Regions from separate parts of the Homo sapiens genome. Here region 1 is linked to region 2. Evidence: fine-mapped expression QTL. A gene starts in region 2. The other region holds a variant in brackets. All regions are shown on one strand. Distances are between the middles of the regions. Region 1 overlaps SCP2 (sterol carrier protein 2). Region 2 holds the start of SCP2 (sterol carrier protein 2).

Region 1 (8,000 bases), 100 kb before region 2:
GTGTTCCTCTGCAGGAATATATTGGCAGCATTTTTAAAAACCAAAACTTTTAAGCCGAGACTTTATAGAGTGCAACTTCATTTTATAGGAACACTTGTAATGAAAGAAGTTCAAGAAACAATGAGATATTTTTTCCTACTAGGTTGGCAAAGCCTTTTTTTTTTTTTTTTTTTTTAATTTTTTTGAGGTGGAGTCTCGCTCTGTCACCCAGGCTGGAGTACAGTGGCGTGATCTTGGCTCACTGCAACCTCCGCCTTCCAGGTTCAAGCGATTCTCCTGCCTCAGCCTCTCTAGTAGCTGGGACTACAGCTATCTGGGACTGCGCCATCATGCCTGGCTAATTTTTATATTTTTAGTAGAGACAGGGTTTTGCTATGTTGGCCAGGTTGGTCTTGAACTCCTGACATCAAGTGATCCACCCGCCTCAGCCTTCCATAATGCTGGGATTACAGGGGTGTGCCACTGTGCCCAGCCCAGAGATTTTTTTAAAAACCAGCCAACATAGTATCAGAGGTGTGAAGTAAAAATAGTTAGTCTCCAACATAGCAAGACCCCATCTTTACAAAAATAAAAATAAATAAATGTTTTAAAAGGAAAAAATAGTCACTCTCATGAATTGGTAATGTTTGTAAGTTAGTACTCTCTTTCTGGTGGGTAGTTTGGCAATATGTATCAGCATACAAAATGCACGTAGCCAACCACCCAACAATTTTCCTCCTTTATTTATATTAAATTGATCATAGCTTAAATACTTAAATATGAGTGCAACAGGAAATTTATTACAGCACTGTTTTACTTGAAAATGTTAAATACAACCTGATATTCATCACAGGAAGCTACTTAAATTTTGACAAATACATATGAATACATACTATGTATTAAAAATGAGGGTAAACGGCCGGGCACGATGGCTCATGCCTGTAATCCCAGCACTTTGGGAGGCCAAGGTGGGAAGATGACGAGGTCAGGAGATAAGAGACCACCCTGGCAAATATGGTGAAACCCCATCTCTACTAAAAATACAAAAATTAGCTGGGTGTGGTGGCACGTGCCTGTAATGCCAGCTACTCGGGAGGCTGAGGCACGAGAATCGCTTGAACCCGGGAGGTGGAGGTTGCAGTGAGCCAAGATCGCGCCACTGCACTCCAGCCTGGGTGACAGAGCGAGACTTTGTTTCAAAAAAAAAAACAGGGGGTAAAGATTTAGATTTATGGCCATGGAACATAATGTCAAAAGAAAAACATAGGTTATAAAACAGGTAGCCCCATGTGGATGCATCCCAAGATGGTTGCAGGACAGGTCTGCAGCTTCTAGGCCAATGCCTGGCCCTGCTCTCCCTCAGGACGGTTGTAGATTATAATGAAAGTCCTGGGAATACTGGGTTCTTTCACAAGACACATCAGTTATATCACCTGTATTCCCATCCACAGTGCAATCATCTCAGATATTAAGTAGTCCTCTGGCCTACAATAAGGGTTATGAGATAAGCACAATGTTTGCCTTTCACACCATGGCTCTAACGTGAGTGAAATACAGTTTAAACATTCTATTTATTCCAGCCCACTTTGATCACCTTAATAGATGTGTAATTTGCATTGTGATTATGGCTGTAACCATGCCTTATACGGTCTCAGATCTAAAATCCATAATGAAATACATCCAGGCAGAGGCTCACGCCTGTAATCCCAACACTTTGGGGGGCCAAGGTGAAAGGATCACTTGAGCCCAGGGGCTCAAGGCTGCAGTGAGCCGTGATCATGCCACTGCACTCCATTCTGGGCGACAAAGTGAGACTCTGTTTCAAAAAAAAAAAAAAACAGAAAGAGATCCCAAGATTCTTCTAAGTTTAAAACAATGAAATAAATATCAATTTTGCGTGAAGAGAATAACTTTCTTTCTGGAGAGTTATTTTTAGATTGCCTTAGTATGATTATTACCTATCAAGAACTAATTATTGTATATAAAAATAGATCCGCATATATAGTATAATAAAAAACAACAGGTGTTGTGGTGGGCACGGTGGCTCACCCCTGTAATCCTAGCACTTTGGGAGGCCAAGGCGGGTGGATCACTTGAGGTCAGGAGTTCAAGACCAGCCTGACCAACATGGTGAAACCCTGTCTCTACTAAAAATACAAAAATTAGCCTGGCGTGGTGGTGGGTGCCTGTAATCCCAGCTACTCAGGAGGCAGAGGAACAAGAATCACTTGAACCCGGGAGGTGAAGGTTGCAGTGACCCAAGATCATACCACTGCACTCCAGCCTGGGTGACAGAGCAAGACACTGTCTCAGAACAAAACAAAACAAAAAACAATAGGTTTTTTTGACCCTAGGTTAAAACTGTAAGTTAATATACACAGAGAAAGATGTCTGAAAGAATGTTAACCACTGTTAACATTTCAGTAAACTCTGAGTGGCAGAATTTGGGGAGATTTTAAACTTTTGTTTAAAAGGTTAAAACAAAAGTATAGTATAAAATTTATACTATTCATAAACATATATTTCTGTATAGTATTTTTTAAATTAACATCATTTTTAAAACAAAAAAATTTTTTAACTACTTTAAGAAATCAAAACACAATTTCTTTTTACAAAGAATTTTGATATATATACAAAAAAGGCTCATTTTAAATATTATTCTTTGAAATGATTTTAAGTAAGACCGTTTTAATTCAAAGGAAATTACAGCAAAATAAATTAGAATCCCTTTATATTTGAACTTTGCCCATGACTGAATGACCCTCTGACAAAGAGGACCTAGAAAAGAGTGACAATTTTAACAGTATTTATTATAGTTCTTTAGCTCAAATCTGGAGATTCATACATTTCTGAAATGCATTCCTTTTAGAATTACAAGGAAGCCTTAATAGACACTCAGAAATCTAACTACACTCAATACTTGACAACATGATATAAATTTTCAATTGTACCACCTCGTGGCAACACCTGAAACCTGTGTCTGCTTCCTCTAGCCTCAAGGTCCTTCCTGGCAATATTTTACATAAATCTTACCTCTTCAAGTTTCTTCTCAATCTCCTTAAAAACAAGATTTGCCTTAAATCCATCACTTGCAGAGCTGGTTGGAACAGCTTCAATTTGATGAGTTCTAAAAGAACTGGGGAAAAGAAACTGTTTCAATTCATGGAGTCACATAGGTACTAGGTTTTTCAACATTTATAAAATAGTAATTTTCAAAATTTTCAAAAACCCTAAGAACAGAGATGTTGCAAATCTTATCCAAAGGAAATCTTTAGTAAGCATATAAAATAATTAAGCTTGGCCGGGCGCGATGGCTCAATGCCTATAGTCCCTGCACTTTGGGAGGCCGAGGCGAGTGGATCACCTGTAGTCGGGAGTTC[G/A]AGACCAGCCTGGCCACCATGGAGAAACCCCGTATCTACTAAAAATACAAAAATTAGCTGGGCATGATGGCGCATGCCTGTAATCCCAGCAACTCAGGAGGCTGAGGTAGGAGAATCGCTTGAACCTAGGAGGCGGAGGTTGCAGTGAGCCGAGATGGCACCATTGCACTCCATGCTGGGCAACAAGAGCGAAACTCCGTCATAAACAAAGAAACAATTAAGCTCTTCTTCTCATTTTTTCAACACATAATCAGCTCATTAGGAGCTAGAAGTTTTTCTTGAAAATACAGTAAACCAAAGAAGCTACCCTCATGAATCTTACATCCTAGTGGAGGAGACAATTTAGAAACAAAAAAATAAATAATATAGTTAGCCAGGCACAGTGGCTCACACCTGTAATCCTACACTTTGGGAGGCCAAGGCGGACAGATCGCTTGAGCTCAGGAGTTCGAGACCAGCCTGGGCAACATGTTGAAACCCCGTCTCTATAAAAAACACAAAAATTGGCCTGGTGTGGTGGTGCGTGCCTGTAGTCCCAGCTACTCAGGAGGCTGAGATGGAAGGATTGCTTGAGCCTGGGTGATGGAACCAGACCATTTCTAAATAAATAAGTTATTTATTAACCTATTATGGTGGCATGTGTCTGTAGTCCTAGCTACTCAGGAGGCTAAAGTGGAAGGATCACCTGAGCCTGGGAGATAGAGGCTGCAGTGAGCTATGATCACACCACTGCACCCCATCCTGGGTGACAGAGTGAGAACCTGTCAAAAAAAAAAAAAAAAAGTGCAGCAGTTGTTCAATAAGCATCTGTCTTTTTCTACCCCTCTCCTCTCATGTATGTCTCCCTGCAGTCCTCAAATCCATTTCTCCTTCCTCTTTCCCTTTTCCTTCTATTATTTCATACTTTTTCTCTCTCTCTTTCCCACAGGGACTCTGTCGCCCAGGCTGGGGTGCAGTGGTCCTGTCACAGCTTACTGTAACCTCGAACTCCTGGTCTCAGGCAATCTTGCCTCAGCCTCCCAAGTAAGCTGGGACTATAGGCGCATGCCACCATGCCCAGCTAATTTTTCAAATTTTTTGTAGAGACAGGGGCCTTGTTATGTTGCCCAGGCTGGTCTCAAACTCCTGGGCTCAATCGATCCTCCCACATTGGCCTCCCAAGGTGCTGAGATTACAGATGTGAGCCACTGTGCCTGGCCTCGTTTCATAAATATTTAATGACTTCTTGCTACATGCCAAGCAAGACATTTCAAAACACTGGGGATATGATAGTGAACAGATCAGACCCAGTCCTTGCACTCACTTAGTTTATATTCTTCCAGTGGAGGAGAAAAAGAAGTAAACACAAAATAACTGCAAACTGTACCAAGTACTTTGAAACAGGAGTAGGGTGACTATAGTTTACTATACATTTACATTTCTAAATAGCAAAAAGAGAATAATCAAAAGAGAATAATTCAAATGTTCCTAGAATAAAGAAAAGACAAATATTTAAGGTGATGGATATCCCAAGTATACTGATTTGATTTTCACAAATTACATGAATGTATTAAATTAGTACTTGTACCCTGAGACTATGTACATCAGTTATGCATCAATAAAAAATAATTTTAAATTTAAAAAAAAGGAACCTACTTTAGGAAGGACAGTCAAGGAATGACCTCTAAGACCTTATTAAAGGAAGAAAAGGAGCTAGCCATTCAAAGAGGAAACTGCAAAGATCCTGAGGGAGAAAGGAGTATGTTAAAAGAAAGTCAAATAAGACCAGAGTCTCTATAATACAGTAGGTGTGGGGAGAGTGACATGAAATGAAATTGGAGAACTAGGCAGGCCAAATGATGATGCAGGCAGGCCAAAGTAGGGAATTTGGAAATCCATAGAAATGATAACATGGAAGTGAAATTGTTTGATTTGTGATTATTCTTACAACAGTGTGCTGAACGAATGACGATGGAGAGAGGAGCAAGAGGAGTGGGCACTAGTTAGGAGGCTGTTGGAATAATCCAGATAGGAGGTGATGGTGGCCTGGACTACAGAGGCAGTCTGCCAGTAGATAGAGAGTGGGAATAGATTCAAAATAGAAATAGAATCCACAAGCCTTGCTGTGGGGGTGAGGGAGATACAAAGAGGAAAGGGCAAGGATTATCCAGGCATTTGGCCTGAATAACTGGGTGATGGAGAGGCCATTACGAGGACAAGGAGGAATGTAGTGGGAATAGAGGGGATCCAAGTTCTGTTTAAGGCACAGTAAGTATACTATTTTATAAAACAAGAAAGCCATGGATATGAGAGTCTGGAGCTCAGTGGAGAGGGCCAGCTAGAGATAAAATGGAGAAATCATCAGCATAGTGAAAGCATTTAAATCCCTGGGCAGGGACTGTAACAGAATTATAGAGAAACAAGAGAGTCCAGCACAATGCCCTTTAGACCTCCATTACTCAGAGTCAGGGACAGAAGGGAAAGCAGCAGCCAGTGATGCAAGAGGAAAACCAGCATGGTGTCATAGGAGCCGGGAGCAAGATTCCAGGAGGGAGGGGCAAACTGTCAAATGCTGCCACAAGGTCAAGTATCCACTAGATGTGCACATGGAGAGTACAGATGACCTGACCTTGACAAAAGCAGTTTTCAGTGGAGGGTGGAAGTCAGATTATAGTGAATTGAAGAGTGAATAGAAGAGGGAAATAGACACAGCGTGGCTCTTTTGAGACATTAGTCTTAGTGGAACAGTAAAATGAGGTGGTCTCTGGAGAGGAATGTGGTGGTATCAAGGAAGAGTTGTGGGATTTTTTTGGTGGGGGGGATAAAGATGACATCTTTATTTTCACTAATCTCTTAAAGAAATGTAGCATTTCTGGGCAGGCGTGGTAGCTCACACCTGTAATCCCAGCACTTTGGGACGCCGAGGCAGGTGGATCACCTGAGGTCAGGAGTTCGAGACCAGCCTGGCCAACATAGTGAAACCCCGTCTCTACTAAAAATACAAAAATTAGCCGGGCATTGTGGTGTGCGCCTGTAAACTCAGCTACTCGGGAGTCTGAGGCAGGAGAATTCGCTTGAACCCAGGAGACAAAGGTTGCAGTGAGCAGAGATCATGCCACTGCACTCCAGCCTGGGCAACAGAGCAAGACTCCATCTCAAAAAAAAAAAGAAAAAAAAAGAAAGAAAGAAATGTAGCATTTCCTTCTGGATGTGGGCATATGAGAGTCCTATAACTTTTAAAAAATATTTTATTTTCCAATTTTTTATTATGTTAAAATACACATAAAATTTACCATCCTAACCATATTTAAGTGTTCAGTTTAGTAGTATTAAATACAGTCATAATGTTGTGCAACCATCATCACCTTTCATCTCCATAACTCTTTTCATCTTGCAAAACTGAAACTCTACCCATTAAAGAGTAACTCCTCACTCCCCCCTGCTTCCAACCCCTGGCAACCACCATTCTACTTTCTGTCTCTATAATTTTGAATACTCTAGGTACCTCTAGGTACTATGATTCTAAGTGGAATCATATAGTATTTGTCTTTTTGTGACTGACATATCACTTGGCATAATGTTCTCAAGGATCATCCATCTTGCAGCATGTCAGGATTTTCAAAAAGGCTGGGTTTCATTTTAAGATGAACAAATCAGAACAGGTATGCCTGATGATGGTAAGGAACCTGGAAAAAGGAGATGGAAGGAGAAAAATCTTGTGGCCTGTGACAGGACGAGGAGACTCAAGCGAAGAAAGAGGATCAGATGGGTGTAATTCTCGTGTAGTGGGTCTGTAGGTCTTGGATGGAAGTTGAGGAAGTTTGGGTTTAATGGCTTCTATTTCTCAACAAAGTATAAGGCAAAGTAATCAGCAGAGAGTGAGGGTGAAAGGAAGGGTGTGGAGAGTCTAAATTGAAAAGAGAGCCTACTAGAGGAATCATATTAATATATGAACAGGGAATGGAACCTCATCTCCAGCAAGCAGACTCTGTGCAGTCCTCGTTGCACAGAATGCCACCTCACACTTCTATGCCTTTGCCACTGCTGCTCCCTGGGTCCAGAATACCTCCATCTTAGCAAACTCCATTTCTCCCTTCGAGACCCAGCCCTTTCAGGAAACTACTTTTCTGTGAAACCCTACTAAATGTCAACGGCTTAAGAGCAGATACCATACCTTTTCTTTAAAAAAAATCTCTGTATTGCCAGTTCCCAGCAAATCATAAGCATTTAGTGAATAGTGACTGAATGGAACTGAAGTTACCCTGAATTCTCCCTTGCCTAACTCCTAATTCCTTCCTGTTCCATTCAGAGCAGAATTATCTATGGTACAGTATATCGTCTTGGTCAAAAGTCTGAATATGTGACCTAAAATCAAGTAGCCACAGCTAGTTCTCCACAAGCCAATTTCATTTCATTGGTCCAATTTTTCAGTTACTTTTAATCATCATTGTGCCCTTTTCCAAACTTGCCACATCTTGCATGTTCCCAAAGGTCACAGGTGTGTCTTTTATCTTGCTTGTTTTGAAAAGCTCATGAAGTTAGTGATGAACCAACTTTTCATCCAGATTAAAAGTTAATATGTAAAGTTTTATCAATGTTTTCTGAAAACCCCTCATTCCTTAAAATTTATATATGTGCCCTGCTCTAAGAAAACTGAATATA
Region 2 (9,444 bases):
TCAAACCCTGGGCTCAAGAGATACACCCACCTCAGCCTCCTAAAGTACTGAGATTTCAGGCATGAGCTACCACATCCAGCCAAGCAGCAATTTTTTTTTTTTTTAAGATATACTTTAGGGATACCAAGAGTTCATCACATGTAATAAGCGTTGCTTTAACAAATTGTTTCAGTTGTTACAAATAAGTTTTGTATGTGTGTACTGGATTGTGATGTAAGATGTATTTCATGAAATTACCATACATAAAAGTACTAGAAAACTGAAGTGCTAAATTACATGTTCTGACTATAAGGTCACCAGAATTTCAAAAAAGGTGACCAGTGTAACTTAGAGTAGTCTGAGGAAGTTTTAAGAAGGTATGGGACTTAGCCTAGTTCTTGAAAGATAAGTAGAATTTAAGTAGATGAAAAGAGGGTATATCAGGAGATAGGCAGCATAAGTGAAGAGGCTTGCTGTCAGCCAGACGGCAGCTGTGACTTAGTTGTGTTAAAACCTGTTGACGGCCAGGTGCGGTGGCTCACGCCTGTAATCCCAGCACTTTGGGAGTCCGAGGCGGGTGGATCACGAGATCTGGAGGTTAAGACCATCCTGGCTAACACGGTGAAACCCCATCTCTACTAAAAAATACAAAAAATTAGCCGGACGTGGTGGTGGGCACCTGTAGTCCCAGCTACTCGGGAGGCTGAGGCAGGAGAATGGCGTGAATCCAGGAGGCGGAGCTTGCAGTGAGCCAAGATCGCGCCACTGCATTCCAGCCTGGGCGACAGAGCAAGAATCTGTGTCAAAAAATAAAATAAATAAAAATACAAAAAGTAGCTGGGCATGGTGGCACACACCTGTAATCCCACCTACTTGGGAGGCTGAGCAGAAGAATCACTTGAACCTGGGAGGCAGAGGTTGCAGTGAGCTGAGATCGCCCCACTGCACTCCAGACTGGGGGACAGAGTGAGACTCTGTCTCAAAAAATAAAAATAAAGTATTATGATAAATTATAACAGTAATATATGGTAGAAATGAGACCCATCTAGTAGTAAGTAGTGAGACCCTGTCTCTACAAAAAAAATTTTTTTTTAATTAGCCAGGTATGGTAGAATGCCTGTAGTCCTAGCTACTCGGTAGGATCGCTAGAGTCCAGGAGTTCAAGGCTGCAGTGAGCTATGATTGCACCACTGCCTTCCCATCTGGTTGACAGAGCAAAACTCCGTCTTCCAAAAAAAAAAAAAAAAGTGTTACAGTGTTGTCTAGTCAATATTTCTCCCTCCTCCATCAAACTCTGTCCCAAGGTGCAGAAGACCAGACCTATAGCAAAGTACACTGGCCAGATAGGCACATCATTAATGGCACTACCCAAACTCCTCACCACTTTCCTCTGGACTGTAACACCTCCCCGACCTCTACCTCCCAACTTGAGGAAAAAGGAATACATCTATTTCCCAAAGGTTTAGACAACTGTGCTTTTCCATACAGCACATATAATCAGGCATTCAGCAGCCAGAGGAAGGTTTGACTGCATTAATACCTTACTTCGAAAGATCCTACTGTCCACCTGTGTTAGAAGCCTCCCCTTCTGTGAAACACTAGGATGATGTCCTTCCGCTTCATAAGGTATTGGTCCACTTTTCCATTTCCATGGATATTTTTTGTTTTTGTTGAGACAAGGACTGACTCTATGGCCCAGGCTGGGGGTGCAGTTGCGTGATCTCAGCTCACTGCAACCTCCATCTCCCAGGCTCAAGCAATCCTCCCACCTCAGCCTCCCGAGTAGCTGGCGTGTGCTACCATGCCCGACTAATTTTCGTATTTTTAGTAGAGACGGGGTTTCACCATGTTGGCCAGGCTGGTCTCGAACTCTTGACCTCAGGTGATCCACCCGCCTTGGCCTCCCAAAGTGCTGGGATTACAGGCGTGAGCCACCGGCCCCGGCCTATTTACATGTTGGACTGAATTAGGTACGCTCAGCCCACTGGTAAAATAATAAACATTTTAGGGCTGTTTTCTCAGAAATAGAACTCTCCCTAGGAACTCTTTCACAAAGCATATCCATTTAGTATTGTTCAACTAACATTCACTGAGGGTCTTCAAGCATCAGGAACGTTCAGGGCGAGGGGCACAGCAGTGAATAAGCCAGGTACCCAGTCTAGAGGAGCTGCCATGCTAAGAGGGCGCGCAGACGCCTATGAGCTTTAGTACTGCCCGGTACTGCCGAGCACAGTAAGTGCAGGACAGAGGTAAGCACAGTGCAAGGCTCTAGGGGAAAGTCAGGAGGATCCGAGGCGTCCTGGAGAAGATCCGATCTGAACGGATCCTTTCAGGATGCACAAAAGTTAACAGGTGAAGATACACGGTACAAACAGAACAGAAGCAAAGCAACAGAGGCATCAGACAACTGCGTCCGGGGAGAAACGAAAGGCAGTTTGGCATTAAGGAGCATGCGGGCGATGAGGGGAAAACGGCCGTGGGAGCCTGCGGCGTCCGGGTCCCAAGCAGTCACTGGAGGGACAGAGGGAGGCCGGAATCTGCCACTCGGGCCGAGGCGCTGGGCATCAGGAGCGTTTCTCCTCGCCATCCACATCTGGAGCTGTCTCTGTGAGGGCTCCTGTGGGGGCTGTTCCTGGGAGGGCCGAGCAGGCGGCATTCGCGACCTGCCTCCCTCCGGGGCAAGCCAGCCCACACACCTCGGGACTCCGCTCAGAATCTAAAGAGGTGAGATCCTTGGATTATCTCGGGGCTGCTTCATGAACTCTGACCAGAAGAAAAGGGAAGGAGGAAGCAGAAGGCCGCAGGAACCAGCCCGAGACGCTATGACCCCAGAGATTCCGCAGAGTACAAGCCACCAAGTCGCCACGCCGATGACCCACGCGCGGAGCAGTCGAAGCTAGGAGACCGGAGGGACAGAGAAACCCAGGCACCGACCGCCCCCGAGCCTCAGAGGGCCAGCAGGGCCGCTGCTCGGTTTACCTTGGTCATGCCAACCCCCACCACGAACACCCGGCGCAGGGTCGCAGGCTCCCACGGGGAAGAGGACATGGCTGCACCAGTGCGGGACCGGGGCGGGCGCCGCGGACGACTGCCGGCACTGACAGGCGGAGACTGCACCAGAGCTCCCTGAAGCCCGAAGCCAGGGCCGCGGGCGGCAACACAGGCGCGTGAGAGTGCGCGTGCGTAGGGGCAGGAGGAGGGGGCGGGGTGGGGCGCGTCCTGTGGGGCGGGGAGCGTTCTCTAGCCCTTAGGCAGCCGAATCCCTAATTTGCGGACTTGGGCATGGGACTGAGTCAACCTGTCCCCATCTCTGATCCTGTGCTTAGGTTCTGTACGGTGAGCGGGAGTAGGCTTGCAGTGGGGCCTAAGACTGAGAGGAGGGGTTGGCCGGAAAGCGGACTCATGAAAGGTGACCCTGAGGAGAGCCGTTGGGGTTCGTGTTGGAATTGGCCTGTGTCCTGTTAGCGGTGGCAGTTGAGAGTGAATTCATGAATTTAAACTCACAGGACACCAAGAAAGCGGGGATGGGCAGGATCTCACACATGGATACAATGTCTAAATCAAAAAACCCAGGCTCCGTCACCAGCTGCGTGACCTTTTTAATCTTGTGAACAAAAGTTCTCCGAAAAGGAATTTGGAAGACAGAGACTTTATTCCAGCAAACCGGGGAGAAACAGCCTTCCATGTTTATTGGAGACCGGAGTCTCGCTCTGTCGCCCAGGCTGGAGTGCAATGCCGCGAACTCGGCTCACTGCAGCCTCCGCCTCCCAGGTTCAAGCAATCCTCCTGCCTCAGCCTCCCGAGTATCTGGGATTACAGGCGCGCGCCACCACGCCCCGCTAATTTTTGTATTTTTAGTAGAGATGGGGTTTCGCCATGTTGGCCAGGCTGGTCTGGAACTCCTGACCTTAGGTGATCTACCCACCTTGGCCTCCCAAAGTGCTGGGATTACAGGCGTGAGCCACCGCGCCCGGCTCCCCGGTTTATTTTATCTTATGTAAAAATGCAGATTCATTGAGCTAGATGAATGCATAAGTGACTATTTCTCTACCCCCCTCACATGTGAAGGTTGATCAAAGACTCAGAAGAATGCAACCGTTTGCCTCTTATCTACCCACATCTTTTTAAAATTTATTCATCTTTCCCCAATATCTGCCCCTTCCCCTATAAAAACTGAAGCCCTCAAAATCATCTTTGGAGAAAGGCACGGACCTGTCTCCAAAGATGATGCACGTCCTTAAACTTGGCAAAATTAACTTCTAAATTAATTGAGATCCGTTTCATATACTTTTCGGTTTGCAGTATCAGCATTTAGAAAGGCTCTCCTAGAAGATTCTAAGGATTGCTTCTTGGCCATTTGGCTAAGATCAAGTTTAGGAGATTCTAAGAAGCCCCCTCTGTGCTAAGTAAAGAACTACTGAGCTAGGACTAGACCAACTTAGTAAAATTGCTGCGCTCAGTGATGCACGCCTCCCATCTGCTCAGGAGGCTTCGGCAGAAAGATCACTTGAGCCTGGGAATTCAAGGCTACAAATGTGCTATGATTACACCTCTGAATAGCCACTGCACTCCAGCCTGGGCAACATACCAAGACCACGTCTCTAAAAAACCAAAACGAAACAAAAAAAAAAAAAAAAGAAAAACAAACACAAATCAGGGCACTGACATGTACAGTTGTTTCTTGAAACTGATGGACTGACAAGACAGCAATATGATTGGTGGATCAGACAAAGTTACCAACCTAATAGAACAACAAGTCCTAAGGTCAAGATTAATTGTTATGTAACAAATCCTGGCTGTCCACTGGATATTGCTTTCAAAATAAGAGTCCATAGAGGGCAGAGGGGATAGATAGTAATATAAAAGGTATTTGTTAATACCGAAAAGACTGAGAAAAAACACTTCCCTTTCCAATGTGAAGGACTAAATAATCCAAACTTTTCCCACTATAAAACACAGACTTTTCTAAGTCATTGGATGTGGGGCTCTGGGGTAGCCTGAGCTGTTTGTCCCACACCAAGATGCTTCAAAACATTATTAAAAATGTTTGGATCCCCATGAAGCCCTATTATAACCAAGTTTATCAGGAGATTTGAGTAGGAATGGGGTTAATGAGCCTCATCATTTATAAAATCAGGAGTACTGATAAAATAAGTAAAATATTGAAAGCTTCTCCACCTGCTTATGGTCATCACTAACCAGCTTCACTTAGCATGCACATGAAATGAAACATTAGTCGACCTGTGAATTTAAGCAAGCTATGTTAGAAAGGAACCTGGAAAATCACTGTACACTTATATAAGTACCACTTACTTTGTGGCATGAATAAGTATACCAAAAAAAAACACCCAGAAATGCCAGATAAAATACAATAAATATCATTTTAAGCTGGGTGTGGTGGTACGAGACTGTAATCCCATCTACTTGAGGAGCTGAGGCAGAAAGGCTGCTTGAGTCCAGGAGTTCAAGGCTGCAGTGAGCTACGATTATGCCTGTGAATAGCCACTGCACTCCAGCCTGGACAGCATAGTGAGACCTTTTCTGTTAATACAAAAAGACAAAAAGCAGCGAGGCACAGTGGCTCATGCCTGTAATCCCAGCACTTTGGGAGGCCAAAATGGGAGGATTGATTGAGCCCAAGAATTCAAGACCAACCTGGGCAACATAGCTCCCTATCTCTAAAAAAAAAGAAGAAAAAACAAGAAAAATCTTTTTAAATGGGTGGATGCCAGGCATGGGGGCTCACACCTGTAATCCCAGCACTTTGGGAGGCTGAGGTGGGAGGATCACTTGAGGCCAGGTGTTTGAGACCAGCCTGGCAACATAGGGAGACCTCTGTCTCTACAAAAAATTTAACAATGAGCCAAGTGTGGTGGCCCACTCCTGTAGTCCCAGCTACTCGGAAGGCTGAGACGGGAGGATCCCCTGAGCCCAGGAGTCTGAGGTTGTAGTGAACTGACTGCACCACTGTACTCCAATGTGGGCAACAGAGTGAGACCCTGTCTCAATAAAATAGAATACAATAAATGCATGGAATATGGAGGAGGGAAGGTTTTTCTTTTAATCTTATACCCAATTATAGTTTGTATGTTTTGTTTTTGCTTCTTTTTTTTTTTTAAGACAGAATCTCACTCTGTTGCCCAGGTTGGAGTGCAGTGGTGTGATCTCAGCTCACTACAACCTCCACCTCCTGGGTTCAAGCGATTCTTGCACCTCAGCCTCCTGAGTAGCTGGGATTACAGCTGCCCACAACCACGCCTGGCTAATTTTTGTATTTTTAGTAGAGACAGGGTTTCACCATGTTGGCCAGGCTGGTCTTGAACTCCTGACCTCAGGTGACCCACCCACCTCAGCCTCCTAAAGTGCTGGGATTACAGGCATGAGCCACCGGGCCTGGCTAGTTTGTATGTTTTGATTTTGTGTATATATTAGTTTTATTTTTGCTAAGGCATGTTTTTAATTTTTGTTATTGTGCTTTGTTTTCATTTTCATTATTTATTTTGAGTAAGTTATACTTAAAACAAAAATCAAGATTCAAAAAGTATAAAAGGGGCCAGGCATGGTGGTTCACACCTGTAATCCCAGCACTTTGGAAGGCCAAGGTGGACAAATCGCCTGAGCTCAGGAGTTCGAGACCAACCTTGGCAACATGGCAAAACCCCGTCTCTACAAGAAATACAAAAATTAGCCAATGTTGTGGCATGTACCTGTGGTCCCAGCTACTCAGGAGGGTGAGGTGGAAGGATCACCTGAGCCCGGGAGGCAGAAGCTGCAGTGAGCCAAGATACTGCCACTGCACTCCAATCTGGGCAACAACAACATCCTGTGTCCAAAAACGTATAACAGGTCAAACCGTAAAACTTGTCTCTCTTACCCTTATTCCCAGCCTCTCGGTTCTTCTTCCCTATCCTTCCAAAGATGTTTTATGTAAATACAATCAAATATACACATGCATACTCTTATCCCCCTTGTTAACACAAATTTTTGTTTTCTTTATTATTTCTTTCAATAGAGGTGGGGTTTTGCTATGTTGGCTAGGTTGGTCTTGAACTCCTGGCCTCAAGCAATCCTCCTGTCTCGGCCTCCCAAAGTGCTAGGTTCATGAGCATGAGCCACCAGACCCGGCCAAATTTTAGCTTTCTTTACACACTATTCTGCATTTTGACTTGTTTCATATACCAATAGATTTTGAAGATTGTTTCATATCAATGCATAAACAGTTTCCTGTGTTTTGTTATAGCTGCATAGTATTCAGATTATTGATGTACCTTTTTTTTTTTTTTAAGTAGAGATAGGGGCTTGCTATATTTCCCAGGCTGGTTTCAAACTCCTGGCTTCCAGGGACCTACCTGCCTTGGCCTTCCAAAGTGTTGGAATAATAGGGTGAGCCACCACACACAGCCCCATAATTTATTTAACCAACCCTCTATTGATGGATATTGAGACTGTGATATAGTTTGGGTGTTGGATCCCTCCAAATCTCACGTTGAAATATGATTCCCAATGTTGGAGGTGGGCCCTGTTGGGAGGTGACTGGATCATGGGGACAGATCCCTTGTGAATGGTTTAGCACCATCCCCTTGGCGATAAACTGGGACCTCCCCACCTAATTTTCTTGTTCCTATTCTCGCCATGTGACATGCTGGATCCCTGTCACCTTCAGCCATGATTGTAAGCTTCCTGAGGCCTCACCAGAAGCACATGACAGCACCATGTGCTTCCAGTCTTTTGCTATTATAAACAATGCTGCAATGTACAGCCATGAACACGTGTCATTTCACAGCTGTGTGGATTTATCTGTAGGTTAAATTTCTAAAATTGGAATTTCTGGGGCAATGAGCTTGTGCATTTATAATTTTGATATAAATTACCAGTTGCTTTTCATTTAAAGACATTCACATCAGCAATGTGAGAGTGCTTTGTATATACTGTGTTTAAGAGAATAATTTTTTTTTTTGGGACGCAGTTTCGCTCATTGCCCAGCCTGGAGTGCAGTGGCGCGATCTCAGCTCACTGAACCTGTGCCTTCCGAGTTCAAGTGATTCTCCTGCCTCAGCCTCCCAAGTAGCTGGGATTACAGGCGCCCGCCACCACGCCCAGCTAATTTTTTTGAATGTTTAACAGAGACAGGGTTTCGTCATGGTGAAACCCTGCCTCTACTAAAAATACAAAAAAAATTAGTTGGGCGTGGTGGCGCGTCCCTGTAATCCCAGCTACTTGGGAGGTTGAGGCAGGAGAATCGCTTGAACCCGGAGGCGGAGGTTACAGTGAGCCAAGATCAAGGCACAGCACTCCAACCTGGGCGACACAGCGAGACTCCGTCTCAAAAAAAAAAAAAAAAAAAAAAAGTGAGGCGCAAATGGGAGGTGAAGCAGTGAGGTTCGCAAGTGTAGACACGCTCAAGGGACTCATTAAATGTCATTTCATTTAAAAAATGAAATTGAGCATATGTGCAAGCAAGGTTCACACACCCCATTTAATCTTCACACCACCACGGGGTAGTCACTATTATCCCCATTTTACAGGATTAAAACACTGACGCTGGGAGGTTGACAGAGTTACACCAAATCACACAGAGGAGCTGGGCTTCCCCCGACCTCCTCCGCTCAAGTCTCCCTGTCCCCGGGAGGTGCGGAAGGAGGCAACAGACGCTTGGCCCATAGGTGGAGCAATTGGCGAAGGCTTCGCCCGACGCCGGAACTGCGAGCTCTCAGCGGGAGCCGAGACGGTGCAGGGCCGGAGAAGCACCTTCACTCCCAGCCTGCGCCCCGATGCTGCGCGTTCTGTGCCTCCTGCGCCCCTGGAGGCCCCTTCGGGCCCGCGGCTGCGCTTCCGACGGGGCGGCCGGGGGCTCAGAGATCCAAGTGCGCGCCCTGGCGGGTCCGGACCAAGGTAAATGTGCAGTTCCGGGGCGGCGCATGACGCGACTGGGACTAGGCCGGAGGCAGCGGGGGACCGGCAGGTGGGCCGCTCAGTGCGTTGAAGGATTCGATCCCCAGTCCCTCCCTCCCAGTTCTAGGCGCCCCAAACCGCTCCAGGCCTGAGAGGTGGGCGGCCGCCTTAGTGGCTCCAGACTCTAGCTGGGGGCGGGGGGCCTCTGGCAACCTCGGTCTCTTCAAAGGCCCTTTGGGGTCTTCCGACTGTGTGGAAGGGGGAGCGGGGTCCGCACGGGTAGGACTGGGCCCCGCGGCCCCCAGGCCAGGAGCGTTTAAGTGCGCGTTCCCCTCCCCCGCCAAGGGTCCTGGCCCGGTTCGGGGGCGGAGGCAGCGGAGCCAGTCCCAGTGCCCAGTGCGGCAGCGGGCAGAGTGAGGAGGGTGCCTCTCCAGCCGCGCGCCCGCCCTGGGCCGCTAGCGAACCTTTGCGTCCTTCTGGCTCCAGGGAAAAGTTCGCTGTTTCTCCGCCTTTTGGCCAAGATCAAGGATAGTATGGAGCGGGGACGAGGGGTGGGGGGCAAAGTTCGCGGGT

Evidence for each region. PIP is the estimated chance that this variant, and not a neighbour inherited with it, causes the effect.
Region 1: its variant is fine-mapped to the expression of SCP2 in whole blood (TOPMed, PIP above 0.99).

What each region holds. Positions count from the first base shown.
Region 1 is chr1:53,023,084-53,031,083 of GRCh38, reverse strand. It overlaps SCP2 (sterol carrier protein 2), which reads right to left. Exons shown (of 16, transcript NM_002979.5): 13 at 3,013-3,115. Among named protein-coding and RNA genes, the nearest start is that of PODN, 35 kb to the left of the region's middle. The variant G/A (reference allele first, on the strand shown) is at 3,360.
Region 2 is chr1:52,920,980-52,930,423 of GRCh38, reverse strand. SCP2 (sterol carrier protein 2) reads right to left here and starts at 3,148. Exons shown (of 16, transcript NM_002979.5): 1 at 2,959-3,148. The coding sequence starts at 3,027. ECHDC2 (enoyl-CoA hydratase domain containing 2) reads left to right here and starts at 8,684. Exons shown (of 10, transcript NM_001198961.2): 1 at 8,684-8,871. The coding sequence starts at 8,751. It also overlaps the pseudogene LOC112268226 and the pseudogene LOC100652967. RefSeq lists enhancers at 2,726-2,815, 2,826-2,885, 2,538-3,053, 8,299-8,981 and silencers at 3,106-3,385, 8,708-8,937, 8,786-8,964.